Homo sapiens: one gene and its partner. The protein of the gene in region 1 purifies or fractionates together with the protein of each later gene. This does not show direct contact. Each region holds a gene or a part of one and is shown on either strand. Other genes may lie near its edges. The genes, in order: KRT86 and OMA1.

Evidence for each region.
Region 2: the proteins of KRT86 (region 1) and OMA1 purify together in Homo sapiens (affinity purification with mass spectrometry; one large-scale study listed by BioGRID and IntAct). This does not show direct contact.

Annotation. Positions count from the first base shown.
Region 1 is NC_000012.12:52,272,889-52,277,506, forward strand, and holds the start of KRT86 (keratin, type II cuticular Hb6), read left to right. Parts: upstream 1-1,756; 5' UTR 1,757-1,831; coding exon of another isoform or gene 1,832-1,834; exon of another isoform or gene 1,835-2,189; intron 2,190-2,932; coding exon of another isoform or gene 2,933-3,058; intron 3,059-4,618.
Region 2 is NC_000001.11:58,501,618-58,505,435, reverse strand, and holds part of OMA1 (metalloendopeptidase OMA1, mitochondrial precursor), read left to right. Parts: intron 1-3,818. UniProt on the Homo sapiens protein: Metalloprotease that is part of the quality control system in the inner membrane of mitochondria. Activated in response to various mitochondrial stress, leading to the proteolytic cleavage of target proteins, such as OPA1, UQCC3 and DELE1.

The DNA of each region.
Region 1 (4,618 bases):
CCATCCTATGAGTCAGAAGTTCTGTTTGTAGTTGTATACAAATCCTCACATATGTGCATCGGAGGACATGTAGAAAAATGTTCATGGCACCACCTTTGTAAGAGAAAGAAACAAAACAAAACAGTAATAGAATTACCTAAAGTGTGGTATAGTTACACAATGGAATACTATAAGAATGGAATATTAATATTATAATGGAGGAATACTAGCAACATAATGTTGAATAAAACAAGACCCTGTGTGACACACTTTTTATAAAAAAAGAACAAAAAAACTGAAACAAATATATATTGAGGCATATGCATGTATTTGATAAAGCTAAGAAAAAACAAAGGAATTATATCAACTTTAGGGAAGTGGTTACCTCTGGGGTGGTTAGGAGAGGACAGGGTAGGGAAGGAGCATGGAGCTAAATGTAAATTACTAGTAAGATTTTAGTTTTGGGATCAGTAAGTAGGTTCATGAGTATTTCATTTTCATTATATTATAATAATAAAGTAATATGCTAGTTATAAGAAATAAACTTAAAACATGAGGACATAAGTTGAAAGTAAAAGAATGTGTTAAGGTGATTGGTTAGATCAGATTGCCTTACACATAGTAGAAGTAAATGATTTTTCCATGAAACTTATTTCAGTAGATGTGGTGTATTTGTACGTAGGTAGTGATTCATGATACAACATATATTTCTTATTTAGAGTTGAGGTTAAAAAACAGTTTGACAACTAGTACCCCAAAGAACCTCTTGTTGAGGTCCACCAGCAGATATGTACAAGAAAGTTCATGGCAGCATTGTTTGTTACAACAAAAACAAAAAACACATGTGCTACCTATAGGAAAATAGAGATATATGTATATGTGTGTGTCTATATCTGTATCTATCTATATATATGTAGTCATACTTTGGAATACTATACAACACTGAGAAATAAAACTACATGCATCAAAAAGATGAATCTCAAAACTAGTATGTTGAGGAGGAAAAAGCAAGTCATAGAAATGTACAAGGTGTAATTCTATTTATATAAAACTTAAAGGTAGGCAAAACTCAACACTAGTTTATGGATACACGTTATGACATAGTAATAAAGAAAAGCAAGGGAATGACCAATATAAAAACTCAGGACAGTGGTTACTTTGGGGATCAGATGGGGTTGGAGATGGATCAGCAAAAATCCCGCAGGGGGCTTTGAAGGTACTGGTGGGTACACAAGGATTTGTTTTATTATTGTTGCTATTGAAATCAATAAATGTAGGTTTTGCATACTCTTTTGCATATATGAGAAATTTATAAAACAAAAAGAAAATGCTGACCACAGCTTGTGCTCTCTAGCCCCTACTCATTCCTACAGGTTAAAGTCATTGCCCTACCCAAGATTTCCTACCAAGTCTTGGGACTGGCATCCCCAGTCCCAATTTCTTGCCCTCCTGTCAATCTTCTGCACTGCTTCTAGACAATCACATCTCATGTCAGGCCACTGTCCTGCTCAGACACCCTCTGTGGCTCCCCAGTGCCCATCCATAAGCCTAAGCTCCTCAGCTCCACACATTTCCTCCACCTGAGGTAGCCTTCCCCTCCTCCACTTTCCTTTAAGTTCCACTTCAGCCCAGAAACTTCCATTTTCCCACCTGGGGTCAGAGTATGGCCCTCTTCTACCCTATGCCCCTGAGGCCTCCTGGGCAGAACTCTGTGATTGTAATGAGATGAGGTCACAGAGCCCCCAGGAAGAAGAGGCCCTAGTCCTCAGTGGCAAGGATTCTGGTAGCTCTTGGGCTGAAGCTGGGCTTTGGTGCTCAAGAGAGGCTTGGAGGAGACCACAGTTCTTTCTCCATGGTGAGACTCATACACGTGGCTCCCTGGTCACACAGGGATGAGGTGTCTTGGACTTCACCCAGATCTGTTGGGCATACAGCTTTTGGGAACAGGAGCAGAAAAGTTGGGGGCAGTGGGAACACAGCAGAAATTGAGATGATGTTTTGAGGTCTGTTCCCCCACACTCCATCTGCCCTAGAAGAAAGTTTGCAATGGGCTGGTGTGAACAGTTCTTGCTCTCTGGGTTGAGGGGGTGTGTATAACCTTGGTGGAGAGCAAAGAGCATGGGCTTAAAATGTAGTCTGGCTCAACTGTCGGCTGGCAGGGTCACTCACTCCCCTCTTGCACGTGGTGGATGGAATGAGCCCCAGTTTGCCTGAGGAAAGACAATGGGAAAAGTCACATCCATCTGGCCAACTTCATGGGTGGTTGTGAGGCCCCAGTGAGATCGTGGAGTAAAAGCTTGTGAAAAGCATCAGGCACTGTGCAAGTGTGAGTTATTGTTCCCTGGCTATTCGTGTATTGAATGCACATGGGGGCGAGGTGCAAGAAGGGAAGTGGTCCCCTGATTTCATAGACAGCACTTCCCATAGCAGCCTTGGGTTTGGGGAAGAAGCTGGAATCTAGATCACTGTCCCTGGTTTCTGATTAATGGCATTCAAATTAAGGACATTTCTTCCTAATCCTAGATTTTAAAATGTGTTTTTTAAATTAGGAAATATTGAATTTCATTAATTTTTTTTGTACTAATTTAAATGGTTAGATGTTGTAAACTACAATAATCAGTTTCCTAGAGTTTAACTCTCCCTGTTCCTGGGATAAACCCTATGTGATCTTGGTCCCAAAGCTCCCCTCAACAGATCACTGCCCTGTGTTGCTGCCCTTCCTGCCTGAGTTCAGGCTTCCTTTGGCATCTTCTGGCCCCATGGGCACAAGGCAAGCTCACTGTGTTCTTTCAACAACCTTTGGAGATAGGAAAAATGATCACTCCCATTTCACAGATGGAGAAAGGGATGCCCAGAGAAGCTAGGTGACCACTGGTGACAGCAGGTGGATGGGCAGCCCTGTCTGGCCTCCTCACCTCCTGACTACAGCTCCCCTCTGCCGTCTGCTCCACAGTGTGAGGAATTAAAGGCAACTGTGCAGAAACACACGCAGAGCCTGAAGCCCAGCAAGGAGGATCTGAACAGGCTTAATCAGGCCATCCAGTGGCTGACGGTGGAGGTGGGCAGTGCTGAGAGTCAGGTGAGAGGTGGGAGTGGGGGGCAACAGAGTGGCCATGGTGGGATGGTGACCATTATTTATGACAACTGCCCCTCCCCACCTACCCTTTGGATTAGATGGCTACACTTTCTCTTAGTGAATGTCTAAGCATACAGCAGTGCAGCTGCATGCATATATCATGCTTACCTCTGCCTAGGACATTGTGTATTTTATGTAAGTAATGAACATGTAGGTAAATCTGTATGAAGATATATGCTTGTTTGTACATTATTATCTTTTTACTTGTGTATGTTCATTTTTATGTCTGTGTTTTGTTTTTCTCGCTCAGTATTACATTTGAGCCCATCTTCAGAAATTGCAAGATATTACCTAGAAACCCAGTTTTCTGGGTTCTATTTCAAAATGTGAAGATCTGGCAATGTTAAATTATGATTCTCAAATGGCAACATTTGGCTAGAGGAGAGAGGCCTCTATCATCTCTCTCTTCTTCACATGCGGTATAGGCTGCCTGGTGTGCCGCAGTCCCCACCACTCCCAATCCCATCCTTTGGATGTGAGGCAGAGGGTCCCTTGCCATTTATCACTGTCCTGGCTGCAAGTTATTATCCTTGTAGAAGAGAAAAGGTGCTGAGTCAATGTCGCCAGAGAAATGCAAGTCTGAAAATATAAAAGAGGTGCTGGTGATTTCAGGAAATGGGAGAGGGCAGATGTATTTGTGGAACTGGGTACTCCTGATGTATATTTAGCCTTCACCTTTTGATGCTTCCAGCTAGGCCTCTGCAAGCACTTGCATTTGTGAGCCTTAGAAAGGAGCTAGTCCTCCAGGATGTTTTCTTTCTCCCATTCTCTCTTAGCCTCCTCTCTTAACCCACCCACCTCCCAGCCCTCTCACACCCCCGCTGGCTCAAGTCTCACTCCATGGAGGGAAGGGCTTCTGTTCCCGGTCTTTTCTTGCTTTCTGCAGATGCAAGTGTCTCAGGCTTGGAAGGGTATTCATGGAGAGAGATCTCCCTTGTACAGGAATGGGTGACTCTGAGAAGGGATAAGCTGCTGAGGTTCTGAGGGGGCAGAGTGAGTGGGTGGGCCATCATGGTCAGGGTCCCACCAGCCACAGCTGTTCTGGTTCCCCAAGCAGCAAATACACTTCACCAAGGTCTTATTATTTTTCCTCCTGAAGAGTATAAACTCTAGGTTCCCGTGAGGAATGGATATTCTTCTTGCTAGTTTTCCTTAGGAAACAATAACCACAGCATTACATGCCAAAGAGCATTGGATGCTTCTGGGATCCTGGCTCATATTAGGAGTTTCTCCATACTAGACGTAAAAGGCTCTCTCTCAGCCATCCTAGATAGCCGGTTTCAAATCTTCACCCTGAAGGTAGACAGGTGGGCAGGTTCTTTTCATCTTGCCATACAGACAAACAAACACAAGTTTTGGAACAGGTGTGCTCACTCCTTGCAACCATGGACAATCTCCAATCCCTCATTGGCTCTGCAGCCTCAGAGCAAGGTCTGGATCCTTAAGGGGGAAGGAGTGAGGGCCAATAATGTCCTTCTGTCCTTGGTCTACCCTTCGCTCCCT
Region 2 (3,818 bases), on another chromosome or scaffold:
GTTTTTATGGTTTCCATATCAGGACAAAATGGATGTTAGGCATCTCTGAGCCACGTTACACGCTCTCTTCTATCTCACTTGTATTAAATTTGGTGGCTTGTTATGAAAGCGGAACATTTTTTAGCAATTTAAGAATTGGTACTGGGCCATGTGCTAAGGCATAGCACAACAGATCCAGGTGTATTATAGAAGTATCTTTCTCATGCCTGTTATCCCAGCATTTTGGGAGGCTGAGGTGGGTGGATCACCTGAGGTCAGGAGTTCGAGACCAGCCTGGCCAACGGGGTGAAACCCTGTCTCTACTGAAAATACAAAATTAGGCGGGCGTGGTGGCATGCGCCTGTAATCCCAGCTACTCGGGAGATTGAGGCAGGGGAATCGCTTGAACCCTGGAGGCAGAAGTTGTAGTGAGCCGAGATCGTGCCACTGCACTCTAGTCAGCGACAGGGTGAGACTCTGTCTCAAAAAAAAAAAAGAAGTATCTTTCAGTATGACTTCAAATTCAGCCCAACAAATACGGAGTACCTCTTAAAAGAAAGAAATGATGCTAGATGTGGGGGATACAAAGAGGAATAAGATATGGTTCTTGATATTTACAGGATGCTAAGATAAATAAAAAATGATTATTAGTACAAGGATATGATTTATCATAAGAAAAATAAAAACGGTATGCAGTTTGAAGGAAGATGAATCTGCTTCTAGTTTGGGATAAGAAACTCTAGTGCAAGATTTATTCATTCATTAGGTAGATCGATATTTATTGATACTTATTGATTAATCTACTATTCTGTGTTCTATTGCTGGGGAATGAGCAAGGAACAAAACAGTCTGTTTTCTTGGAGTTAACATTCTAGTTAGGTAATGCAAATAAGAAACAAACATATAGTATGCCAAGCAATAATAAGTACCTTGGGAAAAAATAAAGCAGATTAAAGGTATTAGAGAGGGGTGGGCAGCAGAGAAGGGGTACTAGTCTATGTTCGGTTGTCAAGGAAGGCCTCACTAATCAGAATCCGGAAGGAAGCACGGGAGCAAGTCCTTTAGCTGTGTGGAGGGAGAGAGAGCCTTTTAGGCTGAGGAAGCAGCTGATGCAGAGAACCTAAAGTCAGCGTATGTTTGATGTGTTCAAGGAATAGCAAGGAAGACATTGGGGCTGAATGGAGTAAGGGAAGGGAAGAACAGTTCAAGATGAGGTGAAAGGGGACCAGACCACGCAGGATCTTCTAAGCCATTGTAAGGACTTGACTTTCACTTCAAGTGATAGGAGAAGCTAGTTGAGGATATTGAGCAGAGGAGTGACTTGATTTGACTCATGTTTTATTGTGATCACTGGCATTATTGTGTGGAGTAGACTAGTGGGGCAACGGTGGAGTCAGGGAGACTTTTTAGGAGACTCTCATAATCCTGGTAGGAGATGATGGTGGCTTGGACCAAGATATCTGGTAGCAGAAAATGGGGAAAGAATCAGTCAGATTCTGGATATATTTTGAAAGGAGTGATGACAGGATTTGTTGGTAATTTAGGCATACTTCGTGCCTTTTGTGAGCATTGAGGACAGCCAAGCATGGCTTCTTAACACCTATTTTAGTTTGTTCAGGTTGCAATAATAAAAATACCATAGACTGGGTGGCTTATAAACAACAGAAACTTACTTCTCACAGTTTGGAAGGCTGTGAAATCTTAGATCCAATTTCCAACAGATTTGGTGTCTGGTGAGGGCCCACTTCCCAGCTCATAAACAGCCATCTTCTCCTTGTAACCTCACATGGTAGAAGGGGCAAGGGAGCTCTCAAAAGCCTCTTTTATAAAAGGGTGCTAACCCATTCATGAGGGCTCCACCCTTATGACAATCGCCTCCCAAAGGCGCTTACCTCCTGATACCATCACATTGGGAGTTGGAATTTCAACATATAAATTTTGACAGGACACAGACATTCACTCTATATCAGCAGCTATCTTAACTAGATTTCATTTGTATTCTTAATTTGAAAAAAAAATTTGAGAAAGAAATAGCAGTGAAATTTACCTGATATAATATGTAGTAATTATTCCTCTTAAAAGGGTAGTATAGGCATGGGACATTATGTATTTCTTCAGTAACTGACTTGTACTGAGGATCACTGACTATAAGAGGGTCCTTTGTGCTATCCAAGGCCCCTGGGACTTTATCGCACCCTGGGAGGCCTGGGCCTGTCTCTAAAGCAATGATAACAATATGATTTTCTCTTGAATTTTTTTTCTTTTTATTTTCGCTCAATGAAATTCTAAAAATATGTGGTTTGTTTAATTGGATAATAAATTCTGTTAGCCAACTTTTCATGTGAAGACTCCTAAATTCTGAGTTGTCATTTCATCATCAAATTACTGAGCATCTTCGGAGAGGTAAAAACTGTGCTTTAGAGATGTCTTTAAAATAATAATGAATTGATTAGTGAGTAGGAAGAAAAATGGCTAGAGAAACAAATTTTATTTGGGAGCAAATGATGAAGACAAAGACGTGAGACATTTTTCTTCTAAAAATAAACTATCCTAGTTCAGAAACTTAATTTGAAAACCTCATATAATTTCTTATATTCCCCACCCCAAGTGATTAAATTCAATTTGAAAGTAATAAAACTCTATTGCAATATTGGGAATAACTCAGTGGTTGAAGTGAAACTGATAGTACAAGGGTATATTGTTAATTAGAATATACAGTCATAACTCAAAGATTGGAATTCCCTATTATTGTAGTCTAATTTCTGACATATAATGAAAGAAGGCAGTTTCTCAGGCAGTATATAGAATTATGTGAGTCTGTATACTACTACTACATTTTGAAATTATATTTTATGTAGCATGCTCTAGTGAGTATGTTATGTTCTACCTAAGGTTCCTGTCCTTTGACATCTCTAGCAGTATGGTGAAGTTATGTTCCCCTCAAAGGCAGTTGAGAATACAGCACTAGAGAGCACAGACAAATCCAGGCCAGAGATGAAGATTTCAGAGTTTCAGAGTCATCTAAAAAGAAGTGATAGTTGAAGCAATGAGAATGGATGAGTTCACGTAGGAAGTGATTAGAGAAAAAGATCAAAGTAACAGTATTGCATATTTTCCACATTTAATGGGTGGGAGGAAGACAGAGCCTGTGTTGGATCAGATTCATAGGAAATCAAGAAAGCAAATAGGAAACCAAGAAAGCAGGATTCTGTGGGTCTGTGATTAGAACACAAATTTTGATCATTTTGATTTTTAAACTTTAGCTTATTGAAGATTGTATATTTTTATTTCTTATTGGATCCCTTGCATATCATCACAAAAATGTATTGTTTCTTACTGTAGCTTATCAACTTTTAAAATGTTTTAAATTTACACTTTATGCATTCAACAAGTATTTATCAGTCATCTGTTATATGCCAGGTTGTAGGTGATGTGAAATAAATAGACAAAAATCCCTGTCCTCATGAAGCTTATTCTGCAGTAAAGGGAGACAGATAATAAATTTGGTGCTGGGGGCGGGAGTGGGGGGCAGTGAGGAGGGAGAGGCAGCTCTCTTATGTCTCTTTTTATAAAGCTACTAATCCTATTCGATCAGGGCCCCACCCTTCAGACCTCATTAAACCTTAGTTACCTCCTTTTAGGCCTTATTTCCAAATACAGTTACACTGGAGGTTGGGACTTCAAAATATGAATTTTAGAGGAACACATGAGTCCTTAGCACACAGTTATGTGTGAGCAGAGATGGGAGGGGTGCAGGAATAGCAGTGTAAAATGGGGTCCTTCAGCAGTCAAAGAAGGTTTCATTGAGAAGCTGACACTTGAACACAGATTTGAAATAA